Regions from separate parts of the Homo sapiens genome. Here regions 2 and 3 are each linked to region 1. Evidence: fine-mapped expression QTL. A gene starts in region 1. Each other region holds a variant in brackets. All regions are shown on one strand. Distances are between the middles of the regions. Region 1 holds the start of MPEG1 (macrophage expressed 1). Region 2 has its middle 36 kb from the start of MPEG1. Region 3 overlaps GLYATL1-AS1 (GLYATL1 antisense RNA 1).

Region 1 (8,039 bases):
CCTGGAACTGAAATAAATGTGTTATAAGTGGTGCTGGATGCCTTTTTCAGTTCATTTGAAAACATGGATTTGATCATGTCAGCTCCCTTTCTGCTGGAAAAAAAAGTAGTTTGCATAATTGGTGTTAACTACTCTGTTTTGATTCTACAGAGTAAGTAATACTCAAATGTGGTCTTACTTTAACTTCTTGCCTTTGTTACCCCCAGAACCATGCAGACATTGAAATGTGGTGTGCGTGTGTGTGTGTGTGTGTGTGTGTGTGTGTGTTCATATAACAGGAGGACAGGAAAGGTAAGGACCCAGAACAATGAAGACTTATTGAAATGTGGTATGTGTGTGCGTGTGTGTGTGTGTGTGTGTGTGTGTGTGTGTGTGTGTTCATATAACAGGAGGACAGGAAAGGTAATGACCATCCATGGAAGATGAAGGGGTAGTACTTAGCACCAGAATCTTTTCCAGTTTTTACCCATCTTTCATTACTCCTTGTCTCCAAATCATCCCTTCCTTAATAACTTAAAATAACTTAAAATATTTTCTGAGGACTTGATGACACCAGTCAGAAGTCCAAGAGTGGTCTGGTATAAGGGAGTGTTCATCAAGGGGCAGCTGGAAAAAGTGGAATTGGCACAGGCAACATCTTTCTTTTCAGATGTTTGAGGTCACCCAGAGGAGATAACAGTCTGTCAACATAGAGCCCTCAAAGTTAAAAAGCAGTAGCCAGGCAAGACTTGTGTCTTTTCAGGGCTCTTCCAGGCTCTAAGAGTGTGAAATTCAGACAGGTTTTTAAAAATCAAAATAAAAGGAGAGTAGTTCTTACAGGCAGAAACTCTTAGAGCTCACAAATTGGAAACAACTGCAAACTTCAGAGTAAATTCATAGCTTCCAAATACAAATGTTCACATTGTCCCTCCGCTATTTTTACACAAATGCATTCAGGTGAAGACAGCAACACACATTGGGAAAGGACATCTGCTTCCTATTTTAGTCCCAGAATCACTTTTGCTTCTAGTCCCAACTGTTCCCTCTCCCCAATCCCAACCTTATCCATGTAACAGTATGAATTTCCTGGCCCAGAGACCTAAACAAGAAGTCACGAATATACCTACTTTTGGTTGCACTTGCCATTTCAATGCTTAGGAAAACAGAGTGGTCAGCAATGACCACACTGGAGATGAGAGAAACCATTTTCGGGGAGAGATTTAAGCTGGACTCTGCCCCTGCTCTTGGTAAGTGGTGTCTCCAGTTGCTGCAGTGCCTGGAACCAAACTCTGCCTTTCCTCAATTGCCTGATATGCTTTCTTCTTGAACTTCCGGGTGCCGTAGATGGCCAAGGTGATAACAACAGCCAGAATGGTGGTGACCCCCACTGTGACCCCAGCTGCAGCCCCTCCTGACAGACCACCACCATCCCCATGGATGACATTCATGGCCCTCCGCAGCTCTATCGGTTCTCCCAGCCTCCACTGGTGGGTCTGGGAGTCTTTAATCCAGGATCTCGCATTCTCAGAATTGGTCACTATGACAGTATTGGTGGCAGCCTGACTCATGAGGGGTGGCCGGGTGAAAGGTGGGAGCCTGGCAGGGGGCAGGGACCCTCCTGTGAAGAGCCCGGATTTGACGCAATAGGACACTTGGCATCCATCGCTGATGAGGGCTGGGTGCTGGCTGAAGCCCCCGGGGCACTTTTTCAGAGACGGTGCCCCTAAATCTCTGGATATAGCAGGATCTACCAGGGGGTTCCCAACTGTGCAGCTAAAGAACCCGCCAAAGGGGACCGCAAACCTGCTTCCCAACTCATAGTCCTGAGAAACACATACCTTGAGGTTTTCAAAGAGTCTCAGTGGAAAGTAGCCGGCTGGGCATGACTGTGCATTTGTCATGGGGTTTATGCTCTTGCTGCTGAAGAGGCCCCCAAAAAGCAGTCCTGAGTTTTCAGGTACTTGGCTGCTGGCCACACACCAAAAAGCCCTAAATTCAGCTTTTGCCACCTGGAACACATCTTCACACACGGTCTTGCAGAAGACGAGGAGAGTGCACTTTCGATGACACTCCAGGTGGTTGTAACCCTCCTCGTGGATCTGGGATAACAGGTGCACCGGGGAGTAGCCAGAGGGGCAGGAGAAATCACCAGTGAGTGGATTCTTCTGCTCCAACTTTTGGCAGAGGAGGACATCCCTATTCCCTGAGAGCTGAGTGCATTCCTGATAAACCCCACCGAAAGAGAAGTTGGTCATTTTCCCCTCGCAGGAGCCATCATCCGTGTTGGCCTGAAAATTGAAGTTGGGAGAATTGAGATCTGTGCAGCCAGGGTAGGTGTTGAATGTATAATAGCGCTTCACAGCAGTTTCCACTGTCTTTGACACCTTCTTCACCAGGGGGCCTGGCAAGTCAGGTAGCATGTTGGGGTTGATGAAGAAATGCAGCGGCAGGCCAGAGCGGTCGATGGCCACCAGGTGGTTGGTGATACCCTGCTGCCAGGCCTGGAGGGTGATGCCTGGGTAAAAAGGAACCCCTCCAATGCTCTGCACCCTGGAGTTGGTTCGGTTTGAGAGGTAGCTCTTGGTGAGGACATTCTGCGAGGTATAGTTTTCCTCAAATTTGAAGTTCACGGTGTTTTGAAAGGCAAGTCCAGCAGAGGCGGTCACGGCACTACGACTGCTCTGGCTGTCTTGGAGGAAGGAGGCCCTGAGGTGGTCCTCCTGAATAAGAGCAGCCCCAGCGTCGACACTGGTGGTGACGTGGGTGCCATAGTTGAGCACCAGGAGTTCTGCCAGGTAGGTGGCCATCCTCGTCTGGTTGTTCTCTAGACGGTCAGAGATGTCAAGGAGTTCCTTCCTAAAACCTGAGCTTAGCTCTAAAGTTGGGTTGATTTTGACTGTGTAGACGAGGTTTCTTACCTGAACTCGGGTAGTTATAGCTTGGTCCTTCACTTGGAGGGTCTTCATCCTCTGGAACTCAGTGGAAAACTTGCCATTGACTTTGGAAAAAAGAGAGAGTTCTGTGTTGATGGAGTAGGAGGTGCTACTCTGGTAATTTGCCCAGGATTCCAGGATTTCTGAGTTCATCTCCAGGTTGCTCTGTTTCTGGGGAATGGTGAAGATTTCATCAGGGATGATATACTGTCCATCCTCTGTTGTCCTGCAGTTGGAGTAAGTCAATTCCATAACTCGTCCCATGTCCACATTCCGCAGATTGTCCCAGCCCCCTCCAGGTAGGACTTCCAGGACAGGTAGTTTCAAGGCATTCTTGCATTTTTGAACTCCAACTTCGTCCATCTCTCCCGAAGGCTTGCCTGATTTAGCCCATGCTGCCGCTGCCCAGAAGAGGATGGTGGCCCTGAAGTTGTTCATGGCTCAGACAGCCCCAGCCACTCACCAGCCCTACACAGCGGCCAGCAAGCTTTGGGCAAACTAAGATGGAGAAAACAGAAGCAGATGATGAAGCGGAAAACTCATGAGTTCTCTAAAAGCTACAAGTTCCTCTTTAAGCTAATTTAATGACAAAATGGGGAAACGAGAGTTGGTTGGAATATTAAAGACCATCAGGTCTTTGAAGAATTTATGCCGTACTAAACATGCAAACACACCCCTACATGCCTAACAGGTAGCTATCCTAATTTTTCCCCCAGCTCTGGCTGGTTACTCTGCTGCAGGGGTGTGCACTTAGAAAAAAATCCCGACCCCACACCCTACTGCTTCCTCCACCAGAAAGTTTGGCTTTGCTTTTTGCTCATTCTCTTGGACTTGATGTTTCATATTTTCCCTGACTGCTGTCTCTTGGGACTCCATTATCAGTTTTCTTTTACTATAAATGCAGAGGCAAATGACCACACCACCCTTACTGAAACACCCTGGCTCCACCATACCTATGCAAGCTGTTAGTCAAGGCCAACCCTGGGTTTCCTCTTTGCCTGAGGGTGGAGGCTGTTTCCACAAAAGAAAGGAGTGAAACTCTTGGACACTTGTCCTGTGGGTTTCACTGTTATGAACCATAGCAATTCTGTCTTTGGGGATGGCATTGTCTGGAGCACAGCTGACAGGGCCTGAAGAGGATTCGGTTGCAATATGCTGGGAAACCCCAATTTGCATTGTCCTAAGCATTCAAAGCGAGGGCAAGGAACTCCTACACTGTGTTGTTTTCATTCAGATAGAAATGTTCAAGACAAAACCACACTATTATCTAGATTTTGATTTATCAACAGCAGACAGGGGCCAAGGAACATATGTGTATGTGTACACACATTTATATATCCTCTGTGTGTGTGCATTTTGTATGAAGTTGGTACCTGTTATACCTTTAATTTTTTGTTCCATTGCTAAGTGTGTGTAATCAGTTTAGGTGGATAAAAAAGAATGTGGCTCTTCACTACCCAATATTTTTTCTAAAAGCAAAAATTCATTTGCTATATCATTAGAAGAATATAATTACATGAGTTTCTTTTCAAGTTCCAATGCCAGCTCTATTAGAGCCCATAATTTAAAACAATGGTGACAGGTTTGATTGAAACCCAACTCTGTTAATTCTTTGGGACAATTAGGCTATGTCTTAGTATGCTTAGTGGTAGCCAGGGAATCCAGAGGACTTAGTGAAGCTCCCAGTTGCATCCTTAACATTCCCAAGATTATACCATGAACTAGATACAGTACTGAGACTGAAAAAGTCATGTTGCAATTCACAGGTATCACTACACCATCACCTGTATGCATCCTGGAAGGAAGGTTCCAAGGAGTTGAATTCCTCTGTTGGTTATTAATGCAGCAAAGAAGTGTTTTTAGAAAGAATGAGGCTAGTTATCTTGCTTCCCAGGCTGGGCTTCACCAGTTATTATCAAAACCATGATGGTGTTCTATAAATCTAGAAATACTGCATTCCGGGTATATTTTTTTTTCCAAGACAGGGTCTTGCTTATTGCCCAGGCTTGAGTGCAGTAGCTATTCACAGGCATGGTCCCACTACTAATCAGCATAGGAGTTTTGACCTGCTCCATTTCCAACCTGGACCCGTTTAGCCCTCCTTAGGCAACCTGGTGATTTGCTCCAAGGAGGCCACCATATTGATGCTGAGCTTAGTGCAGACACCCAACTGGCATAGCACACTACAGCCCAGAACTCATGGATTCAAGCAATCCTCCCACATCAGCTTCCCAGGAATCTGGGACTGCAGTCATGCACCACCACACCTGGCCATTCTGGTTCTATTTGTGCCACAGTTATCATGCTTCTGGGAAGTGACACCAGCCACCTAAGAGGGATTAATTTATGAACCAGTGCCTAGTCTGTATTTGGCTAAAGAACCAAATCTTTGCACAGGATGTTCTAGTTAATTTATAAATCAGTTAGCCATAAATTTATACCTCAGCAGCATGATCCCAGAATTAGAAAAATGAGAGTTGAATGCCCTTGAGTACTTCCAATAAGTCTGTTGAAATACCTACATACTTCTCTTCAAACTATTTCTGGGATGGTTCATCAAAATTAGAATACTCTCACACTGCTTTGGAGACAAGCTGACAATTTGTTACCCTCTGCTTTCTCTTTAGTAGACCCTGTTGAGAGCTCACTCTCCTGAAATGAGAATACAAGCAAGGTTAATACAGACAATTCTATATTCAGGTGTTCCTATGTCTCCAGACGTCTAGTCACTGTATTTTTTATTCTATAGACTTTGTCTTCATTTTATCATAGGAAAAAAAAATTGAAAATAGCAGAAAGAGCCAACAACGGTAAAATTACATTGTACCCATAAGACAAAATATTGTATAGCCATCACAATTATTTAAAACTATTTTAATAACATGAGAAATTCTTATGCCATAATGTTACTGGAAAGGGTTCCCAATGCAGACCTCAAGAGAGAGTTCTTGGACTTTGTGCAAGAAGGACCAGGGCAAGTCCACAGAGTAAGGTGAAAGTAAGTTTATTAGAGAAGTAAAGAAACAAAAGAATGGCTACTCCATAGGCAGAGCAGAAGTATGTGCTGCTTGATTAAGGATACTTATCATTATTTCTTAATTATATGCTAAACAAGGGGTGGATTAATCATGAGTTTTCTGGGAAAGAGGTGGGCAATTCCCAGAACTAAGGGTTCCTCTCCTTTTTAGACTATACAGGGTAACTTCTGGAAATTGGCAGTCATGGCACTGGTGGAAACATCTTTTAGCATGCGAATGCACTACAATTAGTGTATAATGAACAATGAGGATGACCAGAGTTCACTCTTGTCGCCATCTTAGTTTTGGTGGGTTTTGGCTGCCTTCTTTACTGCATGCTCTTTTATCAGAAAGATCTTTGTGATCTGTATCTGTATCTTATGCCAATCTTCTATCTCATCCCATGACTTAGAATACTTAACCCTCTGGGAATGCAGCCCAGCCTTCTTTTACCCAGCCCCTATTCGAGATGGAGTTATTCTGGTTCAAATATCTCTGACAATAATGTTATGAAAAAAAAGAATGATAAACATTCAGCATGACCCCAACTATGTACATAACTAGAGGGATGTACGCCAATGCATAGACAGTAATTACATCTGGTTGAGAGGTTTTTCTAAATTATTTTAATTTTTTCCTCTTTTCTGTGTTTTTTGAGTTTTCAACAATGAGCATGTATTTATTAACTCGAGAAATTTGTATTCAGAGCCTATTAAGTACCAAACACTGATGGGTATTGGGTAATCATCACTTTTGTGCTCAGGAAAATAACCAATGCACAACCATGTAAAAAAAAAACAAAAGAAACAGGCCAGGCAGGGTGGCTCATGCCTGTAATCCCAGCACTTTGGGAATCCGAGGTGGATGGATCACTTGAGGCCGGGAGTTCAAGACCAGCCTGGCCAACATGGAGAAACCACATCTCTACTAAAAATACAAAAAAATTAGCCAGATGTAGTGGTGACACACAACTGTAATCCCAGCTACTTGGGAGGCTGAGGCAGGAGAATTGCTTGAACCCAAGAGTTCGAGGCTGCAGTGAGCCGAGATCGTGCCACTGCACTCCAGCCTGCGAGACAGAGTGAGACTGTCAAAAACACAAACAAACAAACAAACAAAAAAACTTAGTTCTGGAATTTTTATATTCCTGAAATGACCCAAAGCCTATGGATTATGTGACTGCTGTGCTCAAGGAAGTTCTCTTTCCAGTTCTCTGGGAAACAGTGAAAGGAGAAGTGCAAATGATGGGAAATTTGGCTTAACTTAATTTTACATACCAGGAGCAGAAGAACTGCTCATAACAGTCACATATGAGGAAGTGGTGACCAGTGCATTTTACCCACAACTTTTCTGTTTTATTCTGTTCACCAGAAATTTCCTTTGCTTTTTCTTGTACTGGAATGCATATGCAGTCACATAACCTCCCCAGATGGCCACACTTGAGGAGTAATGGCCTGTGGCTAACACTGATCTCTAAAAGAAAGAGGCATCTTGTCTACAAAAACTTTGCATCTGCGTTGCTGAACGGCGATTTCACTTCCTCCAAAAAGAGGCAAGAAGGAAGTCCCACATCTGCTTTCTTTCTCTGTTTGATCCCGTGCAACCTTCTGACACCATCTCATTCAGCGCCAAACCGTGATTCATATCTGAGGTTCGCTTCTGTGTGGGCTTGGAACTAATCCAGGTGTTTCCTACTTCTGCATTTCACCTGTGGTCTAAAATGGGGAGGAAAGTCTAGTTGCATTTGCTGGGACAATTCCCTTTCAGCAGGAATCTAGGAAACCAGTGTGAAAACTGATGGTTAAATAATTACTAAGTAGATCAGAGAACTATGGCTTTTAAAGACTTTGCAGTAAACTTTGTTATGGAAAATCTGGAAAGTATCAGTGAACAAAGTGGCAGTATTTTCCTTTCTGAACAGTTGATTCCTAGCCTGACGTTTTAAGAGTTGCGTTGTCAGCTTCTTCCCCTCAGAGGCTCTTCTTTCCACCAGGATCATTTGGTGATCTGACCACAAAACTAAGAACATAGTGATTTCATGACTCCTTTTAATCTGGAGGGTGAAAACAGGAGGCCCATGTGAAGTGTTGCATATTCCCATTAAAAGCTA
Region 2 (8,039 bases), 35 kb after region 1:
ATCATGTGAGAAGGTTTCCACACAGTTCCAGGTGAAGACACCACCAGCCATCAAGAAGCTACCCTGTCCCCACCAGACAGAGCAGGATGAGAGTACTGTGATCCCCAATATGTAGGGACTGCTCCCGAAGTCAGCATGAAGCAGTTACAGAAGAAAGACCCTTGGTTCCTCTGCCTCCCATAAAGGTTTATGGGGATCATGTCTCTCAGGGGGGAAATGAGGCAGGAGAATAGGGTCTGGAGTCAGGGAATCTAAGGACTTCCTAGAACTAAATCAAATAGAAACCCCAACTTTCTATATCCAAGTCAATAACTTTGTAACTTGACTTCAGCTATGTCAGGAAACATCCTCTTCTTTTGCATAGGGTATACACCAAATCAATAACTTTGTAATTTCACTTCATCCTCTTCACTTACATAGGGTATAAACCAAGTAACCAATGGGAAACCTCTAGAGGGTATTTAAATCCCAGAAAATTCTGTAACCATCGCTCTTGAGCCACTTACTTTAACCAGCTCCCACTCTGTGGAGTGTACTTTCATTTCAACAATCTGTAATTTTCTTTTATTGCTTTGTTTATGCATTTTGTCTAATTCTTTGTTCAAAATGCTAAGAACCTGGACACCCTCCACTGGTTACAATAGGACTATGTTATTGATATAACTGCAATGGCCGAGCATGGTGGCTGATGCCTGTAATCCCAGCATTTTGGGAGGCTGAGGAGTGCAGATCGCTTGAGGTCAGGAATTTGAGACCAGCCTGGCCAACATGGTGAAACCCCATCTCTACTAAAAGAATATGTAAAAATTAATCAGGTGTGGTGTTGGGCACTGTAATCCCAGCTACTCAGGAGGCTGAGGCAGGAGAATCTCTTGAACTCAGGAGGGGGAGGTTGCAGTGAGCCGAGATTGTGCCACTGCACTCCAGCCTGGGAGACACAGTGAGACTTCATCTCAAAAAAAAAGAAAAGAAAAGATATACCTGCAATATATATGATCTTTCTCCCATTCCAAGTGACTAGACAAGGCTGGTTCTGTGGAATCTGAATTCCAAAAATGATTGTGGAGAGTTCTCTTGTCCTCAACCTCAGCAGGGCTATTTACATTTTAGCAGGGTTGAGCCGCATAGCAAGATAAAGAGGAATGAAGTTCTAATGCGGTAATTCCCAGATGAACACTATATTTGAAGTGTGGTGGGCATTTATGGTTCAGATGATTTTCTAGGGTATGATGAAGAAAATATAGAAAGACTGACATGAGGAAAAGAAATGTGCTGTCTACCTTGATCATTTCTGTCCCCTCCTCTGTTACAGTGCCTAGCACATTACGTGTGTCCAATGAATAGTTTGTTCACTGCTTAAATAAAGGGTTATCAAATCATTACTATGTAGATACTGTAAACTTGTCCTAATCCTAAAACCACTGGGCCTTCCTTATTTTAAATATTGCATAGACGTCCAGAAAATTCTGGGATAGATCTAAAACACTAAAATAATGTAATATCAGAGCTAGAAACCAGCAAGCCTAGCCTTTCCCATCATAGGTAATAAAACTAAAGCAAAAAGACATGAAGTAAAGATCTGTACCATTTATTGGTACCAGATATAAAAAGTAGCATCTATATTTTATATCTTCAAGAGAAGCTCTTTCTGCTTTACCTTATTCTAAAACCTAGAGTCTCAAAGGTAGCTAAAGAAGACCCCAAGTAAACTAGATGGTTTTTCAAAAATTGCAGATACACACTTGCATATACCCATGACTCTAGAATAAAAAAAAAAAACTAGCCTGAAAGTTAAATGAAAAAAAAAATGCTTGTTCAAGTTCTATTTCTCCTGCTTCTTTGTAATGTGACTGTTGGAAAAATTATTTCCTTCTCTGAATCTTAATCTCCTCATCTCTTGTATGGACAATAAAAGTATTAGGTTAGATCAGTATTTTCTAGTCCACATTCCTTTATTCCTTACTTCCGTTTGTAAATAGAAGAAATGCAAAAACAAATTTTTTTCTGCAGAATTTCAGAATATTAAATAGATAAAGTCCAGCTTTCTGGTCAAAGTCAGAGGAGTAGGAGAGAAGGTCCCAGCATCTTGCCTGCTCCAACTTCCCCACCTTCATGAGTGTTTCTCACTCTCCCATTCTGTGACTCTATGATTCAGCAGTAATGATTCCAAGGAAAGAAAAGGGGCAGACTCATTTACAGCTCCTTACGCTCTACATTTCAGTTAGATGGCTAAGATCAGATGCTTGGAAAAAGAATGAAACCCATCTCTGCCAGCACCCATAGTACATGTTTTGGACAAAGAGATAAAAAGTATTTGGATGCAGCTATGTTAAATTGGCTACCAACTCCAAGAGAAGGACTTGGTGGGGGTTGAAAGAGACGCCAGTTCTCTCCCAGTTACCACTGGTTCTGTTTAGGTTGTGGGGTACAGCATGTCCCAGAGAGCACCTCTGGGCATCTTGGGTAGCTACCTGTGCTCAGGGATAAAGAAAATGCCAGCTTTGTTTGGGTACAGTTGATTTCCATTGGCTCAGCTTCCATGTTATTCCTAGTTCCTGGTGTGGTTCCAATAATATATCCCTGGAGTCAATGCAATCTGAGACTGGTTTTTGGCTCCAAAATATGTGACAATTTCAGACAATAGCAGTTACCTTTGTAAAGCACTAGATATTTTACAGAACCCTTCTGACAAAGATAGACAGAGAGAGAGAGAGAGAGAATTTTAGGAAAACAATAGTATAGTTCAAAAGTAGAATGGATAGCCCAGAAAGCTTTAAATTTCTCATCACTGGACGTGTGTAAGCAGAAGATGGTACACTTGACAGTGACAGGATTTAAGATTTAAAAGACAATCTGAATTAGTTAACCTTATGGGTTCCTTAAAATCCTGAGATTCTGATTCTGTGAAACAAAAAGAAAGAAGAAAGGAGATTGACATGTACTAACATTTTTTATTGTGTGCATAGGGCCTCTTGTAACACTTTATTTCATAATATCCTCATTCCTCCATACACCACTGCCCCTATAAGGACCTGAGAAATGGATGGCAATTTTTTTAAAAAATCACCTGATAACACTTATCTTTCAAAAGATCAGTGGGCAGGGAGTTTAAAAGAAAAATAACCTCTTGCTGTTTGACTAAGGCCAGATTTCCCTCATGTACGTGTTTTGTTTTTGATTTATCAAATATCCATCTTGAAAATACTTGAAGTCTATTTGTGTGTCTTGGGGAGGACATACAAGAAACAGAAGGAAGTGGGCATTGTGT[A/G]AACCCACAGCACACCACAGCTTCTTTCAAGGATTTGTGAAAGATGGTGGCCACACCCTGTTGATGTTGGCAGCTCTTCAACTTGCATCCAGATGAGAAAAATGTTACAATTTCCCTTCTCCACCCAAAACCCCATCAGCTTCTCCTCTGCCAGGGCCAGAGTCTCCTACTGTGAAGCTAAACAAATTATACTCCCTCCTCGAGTTCCCAGCTCTGGGCATCATGCCTACATTCTTGGGGTCTCTCTCTGAGGCTAGATATTGGAGAAATGATTACTATGGCCAATTCAGTAGTTTGTAATTAAATCTTTTTTTAGGGAAAAAAAAACCCTAAACCTAAAGAATCCTCTTTTTTTTTTTTATATATCTTATTGCATACTGAAGGGTGTGAGGATAGTAAACTAGAAGACTATGGTGCTTTACAATTCCTGCCTCCCTTGCTCCCACCTTCAGAATGGATTGTTCTTTAATACTACTTGAAACATTATCGGTAGAATCAATAGAACCCTCTTTTCATGTCATCTCCAACTCCAAGAATTTTTTTGTGGGGGGACTCAGGCAATTTTAAACTGATTGTTCATAATTCGCCTTCAGACTCTCTCAAATTCAATTCTTCCTCCTTAACCTGCAAATGGACCTCCTTAAAGCACAGATCCAATCATGTCATTTTTTGCTCAAGAGCGTTCATTAGTTTTTTTGTTCACTGATGGCCTGATGACATCCAAATTCCTTATCCTGATCCTCAAATCTGTCACTGCTCAGTGATGCTTAATGAACATGGCATGGAACTCAAAGAGAGAAAATATAAACAGAAGGCCATTGATTTGGCAAGAAGGAAGGGAGGTGTGGTCTTCCCAGAGCAATTTCAACAGAATGGTAGGGGTGGAACTCATTGGTCTCAGATAGGGATATCCGGAATGGAGCTCAGAGGGGATTTGAACAAGGCCAGGTACTGACGGAAGTTATGCCAGTTTAGCAGTGGAAGGAGAGAAGAAAATGGAAGAGTAGGTACAACAGCTGGCAATGTCAAACGAAGGAATCCTCAAGATTGAGGAAACTCGAACAGGTTTCAAGACTGCTGCAAAGGCTTCAGTGCTTTTCAGAGAGGGATACTCTGAGGCAGTGGTTTTCTGCCTTGGCTGCTCACTGGATCACAGCCAGTCATTGGTAGGGCCAGAATTTAACTAGTGCCTACAGTCACAGGAAAAGATAGCTGCATGAGAATGCAGGCAAGTGGTAATGGAAAGAACAAAGAACCCAGAATCAGGATGAGAGAGGCTTAAAGAGGGAGGTGGTGGCACAGAGGACAAAGTTGTAGAATTTTATACTTTTGCTTAAAGCAGGTCTTGTCTGTCTTTGTAAATAACTATTTTAGCTCATTGAAAGTAACATAAACATTCATTTATTTATTTTGCTGTAACCAGAATAAATAGGAGAAGATGTTCTCCGAAATCTGTTCTCAGTCTTCAGATAGACTTATAAACCAACCTGGTAAAACCTAGAAAATAGTTGCCCAACCACATCTGTAGGGCATCTGTGGCCTTCCACCCATAGTGCTTGCTGTCTGTTCTTTGAAGAGACTCTGATTCTTTGATCCTGCTTGGAGTGATGGCGGGGGTAGGCCCTCTTCTGGGAAGCCATAATAATATGGTATCCCCTGCTGAGAGAGCCCACCCTGAGCTTTTCTTTGAAAAGCTTTCTGAGACCAGGAACACGGCAAGCATGGAGTCATTGGGAATCATGTATCCAATTGACTCTCACGCATTGCGACATCGAGTTATCCCTTAAAATAGACCTGGAAATAGCTCTGAAAATTATCCAGAGCTGATGTGACTTGGGAAAAGTATAATTACCCTGAACTTGCTTGATCTTGAAAGTGGCATTTTGTTGGCAGGGCTCGATCTCAAGGAAGAGAGGCAGTTGTGGCTGGAGGCGGTCAGTTAGGTTGGTGAATGTTCACTGGAGAGGGCTGCCCAGTTGCTTCCCAGATGGTGAGAAAGACCTATTCTATGGGATGCCATAAAAAGCCATACAAGTGAGGACATCTCAGTCTACGTGGATGTTGATGGTTTGGGGAAGGGAAGAGGGGCAAAGATATAGGTCATGATGTATCCGTTTATTTTACTGAATCATTAATTATTCCTGAAAATCTAAAATTAGTCTTGAAATTTTCTCTGCCAGATGAGGCAGGATGACAGAAAAAATAACAAAAACCAGGTTCTTTCTGTGCACTGCCTACATCATGTCTTTGATTGAGGTCTCAAGACATCACTCTTCTCAAGTTGCTCACCAATGAGTTCAATAAATTTAAAAGCAACTACACCTGGCTGGTAATGTCAAAGAATGCCTTCTTACCCATTTATTGCCTCTCCTCAAGACCAAATTTCAAGCTCCATAGTGCAGAAAAAAATCTAGATTGACTATCTCACTGTGATTGTTTCATTTTTCTGTATGCCTCTCAGGTCGACATTTGTTTAGCCCTCTATGTTTAATGGTGCTGTGCTAAGTATGGTGGCAATGAGAAAGATGCATCAGACAATGTTAAGGTTGATGTCCCTCTAGTGCTCCGGCTGTACATTGTCTTGAAGGGATGCCTCACCAACTTCAAATTCTATGCCACCCCAGTCATATGACTTGGCAGCCCCATTCCAGCCCTCACCATAATAGAAAATTGCTTAATTCCAAAATCTCAAACTCTAAAATTTCCCTTTACTAAAACTGCCTGTTCTACTCTGCAACTCCCAGCCAATCTATTCTTGGTTTTCATGATTTCATGCTTCTCAGGCTCTCCCAAATTCCTAAGCTCATTATCCCAGCCCTCAGTGATTCCCACTACCATCCCTCACCATGTTGTTTTTTTCCCATGATATCCATAAGCTTAGTCAGGCTGCTGGTGGGCTTAGCTATTCAAATGAGCCCTCTTTTCCCACAAGGACATTCACTGCTTCCTCGAATTTTTTCTGAGCCTCTTTTTGATTTCCTATCCTCTTCCCCACAGCCACCTCAAGACAACCTTTCTTGACACCCTTAACAGGATATGATTTCTCCCTTTTCTGAACTCTCATACCTTGTACTTGTTATGCCCTCATGGTTCTCAGCACTTTCTGATTCAGATAATAGTCGTGTCTATTTGTGTAGTTTCTCTTCGAGGTCTTTTAGGGTTAAAGTTCTTATTCATCTTTATATTTCAGAGCTTAGCACAGTGCCTGACATCAAAAAGATGCCCACTGACTGTTTTCTGAATTGAATAGGATGACTTTTCCAAAAAGGAACTTTTAAAAAATAATAGCTTCATCAGGATATCAGCTGCAAAGTTTGGAGGGAGTAGCTTTACAGAGAAGCATAATAAAATGCACACTGAGAATTATTAGTTTTCTATTGCTGCATAATGGATTAACACAAATTTATCAGCTTAAAACAACAGACTTGTATTATGTCATAGTTCTGTAGGTCATAAGCTCAACACAGCTTTGATAGGCTCTCTGCCTATAGTCTCCCTCCTGAACAGGGTAAGTGAGGACATTGAGGCTGTTTGTCTCTACCCACCTTTTCAAGCAGAATGTCACCTCTTTCTGCAACTTGTCAAGTAGAAAGAGAGGACATTTTAACGTTCCTTTTGCAGATGAGAAGTCATAGGTTGAAGTTACTTGGAAATAACTTCCTGCTTATTTCAAGGAGGAATTTTTCTTAAAGTCAAAATTTTTTTTATATTTATCCAAAGATAAAAGGGGCTGACTTGAGAGGTTGCAAACCCTTTGGATAAAGAGAATTCTGGAAACAGAGCAGAGGTGGATTTATTCAGCCTCTTTCAGACATTCATGCCAAGATATTTGTAGAGATAGGCCGGGCGCGGTGGCTCACGCCTGTAATCCCAGCACTTTGGGAGGCCGAGGCGGGTGGATCATGAGGTCAGGAGATCGAGACCATCCTGGCTAACAAGGTGAAACCCCATCTCTACTAAAAATACAAAAAATTAGCCGGGCGCGGTGGCGGGCGCCTGTAGTCCCAGCTACTCGGGAGGCTGAGGCAGGAGAATGGCGTGAACCCGGGAAGCGGAGAGCTTGCAGTGAGCCGAGATTGCGCCACTGCAGTCCGCAGTCTGGCCTGGGCGACAGAGCAAGACTCCGTCTCAAAAAAAAAAAAAAAAAAAAAAAGATATTTGTAGAGATAATCCCAGCTGGAGTGTCAACTATTTAAGACAAAGAATATCTTGTTAGGGCCATTGTGGAAAGGTGTTAACATTCTGTCCCCTTGAGTGACCCTGGTGCTCAGGCATGCCTGGCCCCTCCTCTGCTGATCATTAGCTAGGTCATCTTCAGCAAATGCAAGCTAACTTGTACTCCCTCGCCCATCAGATGTGGTCTCATAGCCAGGCTGTCATGAAGACCGAGTGTTCATGGATATAAACTTTAAAAGAGTTATGCCCATGAAAGGCAGTTTTATCATTACCTCTAGCCACACCACCACCTTTGTGTTAACTTTTCTGTTACTGGAGCATCTTGGGATGGACCTCCCGCTACTGGTTATTGAAAAACTGACAAGTTTTACATTGTGGTATCTCATTTTAGGAGACACCCAGACACATAATACTTTGTTCAATTTTACAGGCCACCTCATATTCACTGGTTAATTTGGTCTTCTTGGGTGGGTGCTGTGGCTCACGCCTGAAATCCCAGCACTTTGGGAAACTGAGGTAGGTGGATCACCTGAGATCTGGAGTTCAAGGCCAACCTGGTTAACATGGCAAAACCCTGTTTCCACTAAACAATACA
Region 3 (8,039 bases), 170 kb before region 1:
ACTGAGAAATAACCAGTGAAGTTAAAGGAAAAGAAGAGAGTGTGTTTTCTCGGAAACCAAGTGAAGAAAGTCTTAAAGAATGATCTATTAAGAACAGAAGCAATAATTGACCACTGGATTTAATAACATAGAGATCACTGATGGATTTAAAAAATGTTTCAGTAAAATGGTAGCAGCAAAAACCCAGTTAGATAAGATTAGGGGGAGGATTGGAAATAGCATTTGTAGACAATCCTTTCAATGAATTTTGCTACAGAGTGTTAAAGCAAACTAAATATGGTCTGAGAAGGACTCTGTGCTTCATTTGAGCCCTTGTGGGTGTAGAGTAACCTAGCTTAATAGACAAAATTGAAAACCTAATTTAGGAGTCTGCACCTGTAACAATATTTGAATGCTGGCCAGTCCCAGCAGCCTTACATCACCACTCATAGACTGCTGAATGCTCAAACTGTGTTTAAATAAGGCAAACGCCCAGGTGACAGAAATCTCACTGTTTCTGTAACTCATTTCCGGTTCCTGGATGTCACTTTAACTTTTTTTCCCTATAAATTTGTTTTGACCACAAGGCACCCCTGGAAACTCTGTGAATCTGCTGTGATTCTGAAGGCTGCTGGATCGATGAATTGTTCATTGCTCAACTAATCTCCTTTAAATTTAAGTCAGCTGAAGTTTTTATTTTATCAGATTGTGTCAGAAGCAGAATCTGAAGTGGAGCTTCTAGTATCCCCAGGAGCACTGAGTAAACACAGAAGGTACCTGCGGGATCCACTTGTGTCCACTGATCTCTCAGAGCAGCTGAGGATCAAAGGTAAGCTCCCTCTTGCATTTTGGAGCTTCACACATTTGTGTTTTGAGCTCTCTGAGTTTCCTTGTGCAAATTTGTGATCCAAACTGGTTTTGGAGTTGCAACAGAAAATGGACTGGGTCTAGGAATGAATTTGATCTGGGAATTAACTGGCTTGGATCCACTTAGAGGCCACTAACAGTAGAGGCCACTAACAGCTGACTGGGTCATAAAGGAAGTGGTAGTAAGCAGTAATGTCGCAGCAGTCATAAAATTCGGCTTTGGGAAATTCACAGGGATTTTTGTGTTCTACCCATTTGTTTCATTTTTCTTGTGTACCTAGATAGGAAAATTCATTGGTTAAGTTAATCAAAAGAACCTGAGAGTAAAGTCAGTATTTTATGTAAAACTGGAATCCTTAATTTCTGAAAAACTGAGTTCTTTCTGGCTTATACATTAGGACTGGAAGGCAGAGAAGTCTTACACAAATGGCAAAATCTTACTAAAGATAACTTAGAGTGGAACATTCCAAATGAAAAACAATGCATTGAACTACATTTAAAAATGAGGGCTCTCAGTAAAGTCCCTTTTGGCTAAGAACCGGTTTGGCACTATAGAATGTCAACTGTTATACTCTTTGGCACATTTGTAAGAATTCCAAGTGTTAGGCCGGGCGCGGTGGCTCACGCCTGTAATCCCAGCACTTTGGGAGGCCGAGGCGGGTGGATCATGAGGTCAGGAGATCGAGACCATCCTGGCTAACAAGGTGAAACCCCGTCTCTACTAAAAATACAAAAAATTAGCCGGGCGCGGTGGCGGGCGCCTGTAGTCCCAGCTACTCGGGAGGCTGAGGCAGGAGAATGGCGTGAACCCGGGAAGCGGAGCTTGCAGTGAGCCGAGATTGCGCCACTGCAGTCCGCAGTCCGACCTGGGCGACAGAGCGAGACTCCGTCTCAAAAAAAAAAAAAAAAAAAAAAAAAAAAAGAATTCCAAGTGTTATTTCAAAGGAAATTTACAGATATGTTTCCAAATTTTCTATGCTTTTTTCTTATTTTTGTAATGAAACTGGGAAAAATTTCAAAATGGTTATAGATCTGAAATATTTGGCCCTAAGAAACTAAAGAAAATCTTTGCCAACTCCTGCTCTGAGGTTTCCAGTCACAACTGTTCTTAGATATTTCCTATTCCAGAAGAAAGAAGACTCTTCAGGCATCTGATGACCAAAATAAAAGAAACATTATGATGGTGGTGGTGGAGTGTTCTGCTACAGGCATGTGGGAGGCTCACAGAACTCTTAATATTCACTTTTAATTCATTCCACCAGAGAGGAAATGCATGGGTTTTGGATAGGACTCTGTCATTTATCCCTGTAAGAACTTGAGAAATTTATTTAGTCTCTCTAAGCTTTGGCGTATTCAAAATGAAGACGATACTAACAGTACCTACATCATGAGTGTTACTTGAATGGAGATGTGTAAAGTGCATTTTAATTTCATCTGGTCCTTTAACATTTTCCCTTCACTTCTCTTCAGAGTTTTTTCTTGAAGGGCTCGAGGACTGAAGCATCCCACAAAATGATTCTATTGAATAATTCTGAGCAGCTGCTGGCCCTATTCAAATCTTTAGCAAGGAGCATTCCTGAGTCCCTGAAGGTGAAGGAACAGTGGGAGGTTGGGGTATGGGAGTAGGGGTGTTGAGGATGAGAAAATAACAGGCCCAAGAATCTCGTCCTTCCTGACTTTGTGCAGAGGGTTGGAGCTGGGAAACAGGATGGGGTTGGGGACAAAGGAGGCATGTTAAGAGCTGCTGCTTCTCCTCGGCAACAGGCAACTAGGCCGACTCTGCAGATTTTATCACTCATTTGGAGAGGTGGTGAAGAATGGTGGCTACGAACATCGGTTTGGGGCCAGATTCAATAAATATGCATTGCAAGGCTGCCATTTTTTAGTCAGATATCATTGTGCCTGTGTCTTTAGCTTTCTATGCCTTTATCTTTGGTCTTTTCATTAATAAAATGGGAATAATATTAGTAGCCACCTATTAAAGTTGTTGTGGACACTGAATGAATCCATACAATATAAGTGCTAAGTGCATTGTCAAGTGCCCAGCTACTGCACAGTAGCTCTGTGGTATCACAAGGACACCTCCCTGGGAGTTCTGCCTGTTTGCTGGTGACTTCACGTCCATCAGTATGGTCCTGGAGATGCTGCTCATCACACTATCACCAACTTGGTCCCAGTGCTGTCTCCTGACTTCCATTTTTCTCTTCCTCTTCACATACAGACCCCCATCTCTGGGGATCTCAACCTCTCCTATTCCCTTTCATCCCTCCTTCAGGTGTATGGCTCTCTGTTTCACATCAATCACGGGAACCCCTTCAACATGGAGGTGTTGGTGGACTCCTGGCCCGGGTATCAGATGGTTATTATCCGACCTCAAAAACAGGTAGGCACACAGACAGGGACTGGTGGAGCCAGGCAGGTCCAAAGGGCCTGAGGAACTGTCCAATTCAGACACCATGGCTGCTTTCATAGGGTGAAAGGAAATGTGAGTATTTTAAAACACTCCTTCGTTAATGAGCAGCTTGCATGAATGCCACATGTTAACACTCTTCCCGTAAGCATAAGACTAATTTGGGAAAGGGGTTCAAGGGGGAAGGGGAGGAAAAGGACAAGGCTGACACTCACAGATTAAGGGCCCTTTGAGGTGGCAGGGGTCACCTGCAGGGGCTGAATGGAGGCCAATTTACAGGGAAAGTTGTGTGTCTGAGATATCAGAACAGTGATTTAGAAACAAAAACCAAGGCAGTAGTCTACCAGCAAAATTACCTCTCATGGCCAGGCATGGTGTCTTTTACCTGTAATCCCAGCA[T/C]TTTGGGAGGCCAAGGCAGGAGGATCGCTTGAGGCCAGGAGTTTGGGACCTGCCTGTGCAACATAGTGAGACCTCATCTCTACAAAAAAATAAACAAAATTAGCAGTGCATGGTGGTACATGCCTATACTCCTAGATGCTCAGGAGATGGAGATGGGAGGATGGCTTGAGCCCCAGAAGGTTGAGGCTGCAGTGAGCCAAGATCACACCACTCTACTCTAGCCTGGCCAACAGAGTGAGACCCTGTCATAAAAAAATAAAAGTTGCTTCTCAGGAACCAGGGAAGGGGCACACAATTACTGTGTGTCAACTGTTTGGAAGCACCTCACTCATTAGTGACTGTCATCATCAGAACAATTTTACAAAGTGAGCTTTAATATCTTCAATTTAGAGATGAGGAAACAACACTGAGAAATATTAAGTCCTGTAGCTGCTGGATACCAACTGTTAAAGCATTCCCCAATCTGAATTCAAGTTCAACGGACTCTGCCACTTTTACTAGCTATATAACCATAGGCCCTTCTGTGAGTTTTATCATCTGTTAAAATGGGAAAAATTGGAGGACACTCTTCAGAGGATCACAGAAGGTTTAAATGAGATACCATATGTCAAACACTTAGTACATAGCACATAATTCTAAATAGTATTTACCATAATTAGCCATTGTTGGCCGAGGAAACACAAGGTATACACGATTAAGCTGAAATAGTAATACAAACCTAGGTCTATTTTTTGGCCCTAAAGGCTTCCCCTTTTTGTATCTGTTTCATGCACATCTGGTTAGTGAACTGAAGCCTCATGGACAGCCCAGCTTCAGGTGGGTATAGACGCTGAGCCCCCACATAATAATAAGCTGAGCCTAACACCTTCCCAGGGATGTTCTTTTGATCTCAAGGTTTCCTGACAATTTCAGATGGAAGATTAATGCTTAGTTTATTTGATCCATGGTCCAATTTCTTCAAAGTGTGATATGCTAAATAACTGTATGAGGTCAAATAGTTCTTTTTACTTCAGTAACTTTGTAGTTACTATGTGTATTTTAACAATGTAACTGCACCATCAAGCTGTAACTTCATATATGCATTGCTTTGAACAAGGCTAGTTTTTATAAAGTGAGTCAGTAAACAAAAATATTAAAATATAAAAGTTCCATGCCACACATACATGACCAAAAAAATGGAAAGAATGAAATATGCTGCAATTTACTTGGAAATACATTCACCTAGTCTGATTCCATAGTATACCACGTTTCTTTCAGTATTGAAAATCGATGCAATTTTGAAGAAGACCTTTTTAAGGTGAGATGCAGGAGAATTTCTCTAGAAAAAAATTAATTTTTTCTTTCTTGGTTTTTAATCAGAAAGATAATATATGCTGATTATACAAGTGGAAAAATCCAATATGATTTTAAGAAGTTAATAACCTCTCACCTCCTTTGCCCTCCTCTCCTCCATTCCTACCCTTTGGGGTAATCAGTGTCCTTGCCCATATTAACACACAAACTGTCATCACTTTTTAATTTGCCTTTGACATATGGACATTGCTTTGAGTGAATCAATACAGCACTAACGTTTTCGTTTTAGTAACTGTGGTGTTCCATAGAGTCAATGCAATGCTAGTCAGTCATTCTCCTCCTGTTGGGTTCAAATTGTTCATACTTCTTTGCCATTACAAACAATGCTTCAGTAAACATCCTTGTATACATGTCTTTACATCCTGGAAACTTTTCTCAATGCAATTGGTTTCCAAAAGGGATACGTCCAAGTAAGAGCTTCTCTTATCCTAAGTAGGCACTGCCAGACTACCTTCCCAAAGGATTCCACAGTATTATTTCCATTAGCAATTTGTGGAAGAATTGTTTCCCACATTCTCACCAGCACTGAATGTTATCCTTCTTCTAATTTCTGCCAAACTGGTGGGTGAAAAGTGGCATCTTATTGTAGATTTAATTTGCATTTCCCTGACTAGTGATATTCAACATATATTTTCATATGATTATCAGTCATTTTGGGTTTACTTCTGAACTGTTTATATTGTTTGACCATTTTTACACTGGGATTTTGTGTCATTCTTAAAATTCTCTATGTGTTTTGGATATGAGGGATACTAACACAAGGTGTATGCTACAAATTTGTTGCCCAATTGAGAATTATTTTCTATTTTATTGATAGATTTTCACATGAAGCAATTTTTAATTTTCATGTAATCAAATATATTATCTTTTTCACTATGATTCCTGAGGCTTTGGGGGTTTTTTTGTTAATAATTAGGAAGATTTTTCCTAATCCAAGATCATACAAGTTGTTTTTTTCATTTTGTCTTACAGTGAGTTTTTACTTTTGACATTTCAAACTTCATTCTATTTGCAATATATTTTTGAATAGCATGCATTAACATTCTTTTATATTTATTCACCTTATGGCTGGCTAATTACATTAGTGCTATTTATTAAATAAGTCACTCTGCTACTGAAACATAAATGTCTATTTTGTCATGTAACATTTTTATATATTTTTGTAGCTATTTCTGTATTTGTTTTAGTCTTTTCTCATGCTATTTCAATGTTTTGTGGTAAATATTAATATCTAATAAAGCAAATCACCCTTCACTAATGTTTTTCTTGATTTCCTATTTCTTATAAACTTAAGAGCTATATGAACAAAAACTAATTTTTCAGTTCCCCAATTCCCCCAACTAAGTATTGCAATTGTGATTTGTATTGGAGGAGTTTTTTAGACAATTGTGGAAGCATTAATATTTTTGTGATACTAAATATTTTTATCAAGAAATATGGTCTTTCTCTCACTTTTTTCAGTTTCTGTTCTATGCCATCTGGTAAAATATTAGTGTTTTCCTGAGGTAAACTACATTGTTTTCTGTCGAAGTCTCTTATATTTTCTAAATGTGTAATACTGTAATCTATAAACAAAGTAATTTGCTGCTTCTTTGCCAATATTTGTATGGGTTTTTAGTTTCTTGCCTTATTGTATAATGTACAACCTAAGAAAACAATATCAAATAACCATAATAATAGTTCTATTCTTGTCTCATTCCTGATTCTAATGAAATAGCTATAAACACTTACCTTTAAAATTACATTTAATTCTGTCTTTACAGGCTTAGAGCACTTTCCTGTTTTCCCACTTTCATAGAAATTATATTTAGAATGAACGGTAAATTTTATGTTATTTCATTTTTGTCTTTTTATGGAAATTTATATACTCATGTAATTTTTTCCTCCTTTAATTTATTACCCTAAAAGATCTTCTGATCAAACTCATTCTGGCCTTTCTAAAACAAACTGTTCATGTTCACATTCTTTTCATATGCTACTGAATATTTTATTCAGAATTTTTGCATCTGTATTCATAAGCCAATATGGTCAGTAACTCTCTTTTTGTTATTTCTTTACCAGATTTGGCATTAGGATCTTTTCATCTTTTACCAAACAATACAATTAAAATTATGTGTTTGGTTTTGTCTTATGTAGAATTGAAATGTAAAATAATCTAATTTTGGCTACTTTTTAGTTTGTAATTTCAACTTTCCTTTTAGATAAAGGGGGTACATGTGCATATTTGTTACATGCAAATATTGCATGATGCTGAGTCTTGGAGTACGGACAGATCCCATCACCCTGGTAGTGAGCATAGTACCCGATAGGTAGTTTTCTAACCCAGCCCCTTTCCCTCCACCCTCTAGAGTCCATAGTGTCTATTGTTCCCACATTTATGTCCATGTATGGTCAATGCTTAGCTCCCAGTTATGAGTGAAAACGTGATATTTGATTTTCTGTTACAGCATTAATTTGCTTAGGATTATTACACTGTGGAAAGTAGTCTGGAAATTTCTTAGAGAACTTAAAACGGAGTTGCCATTAGACCCAGCAATGCCATTACTAGGTAAATACCCAAAAGAAAATGAATCATCCTACCAAAATGACACATGCACTAGGATGTTCATTGCTGCACTGTTCACAATAGCAAAGACATGGAATCAACACAGATCCCCATCAAAGGTGCATTGGATAAAAAAAAAACTTGCTACATACATTCATATGGAATACTACACAGCAGTAGAAAAGAATAAAATATTGTCCTTTGTAGCAACACGGATGGAGCTGGAGGCCATAATTCTTGTCCACTTTTCAAATGGTAGATGTTTAATTTCATTTCTGATATTTCTATTAGTTCACTGAAGTTTTCTATTTTTTGAAAGTCAATTTTGATAGTTTATTCTTGAGGGATAACATCCATTTCTTTATCAGTGAATATGTTGCCTTGGAGTATATAATCTTCTATTATAAGTCTTTTTTCTTTTCTGTTTCCGTTCTCATGGCTCATACTCTATGCCTTTTTTTCTCTTTTCTCTTTCTCTTCTATTTC

Evidence for each region. PIP is the estimated chance that this variant, and not a neighbour inherited with it, causes the effect. A credible set is the group of variants that fine-mapping cannot tell apart.
Region 2: its variant is the best candidate, but not a certain one, in a credible set for the expression of MPEG1 in whole blood (TOPMed, PIP 0.50).
Region 3: its variant is the best candidate, but not a certain one, in a credible set for the expression of MPEG1 in whole blood (TOPMed, PIP 0.57).

The regions. Positions count from the first base shown.
Region 1 is chr11:59,209,516-59,217,554 of GRCh38, forward strand. It overlaps MPEG1 (macrophage expressed 1), which reads right to left and starts at 3,412. Exons shown (of 1, transcript NM_001039396.2): 1 at 1-3,412. The coding sequence starts at 3,350. The coding sequence ends at 1,200. It also overlaps the pseudogene RN7SL42P. RefSeq lists an enhancer at 3,389-3,588.
Region 2 is chr11:59,244,703-59,252,741 of GRCh38, forward strand. No RefSeq gene overlaps it. Among named protein-coding and RNA genes, the nearest start is that of MPEG1, 36 kb to the left of the region's middle. The variant A/G (reference allele first, on the strand shown) is at 3,269.
Region 3 is chr11:59,040,379-59,048,417 of GRCh38, forward strand. The region is part of intron 3 of GLYATL1-AS1 (GLYATL1 antisense RNA 1); the gene reads right to left. It also overlaps the pseudogene GLYATL1P4. Among named protein-coding and RNA genes, the nearest start is that of GLYATL1-AS1, 14 kb to the right of the region's middle. The variant T/C (reference allele first, on the strand shown) is at 3,656.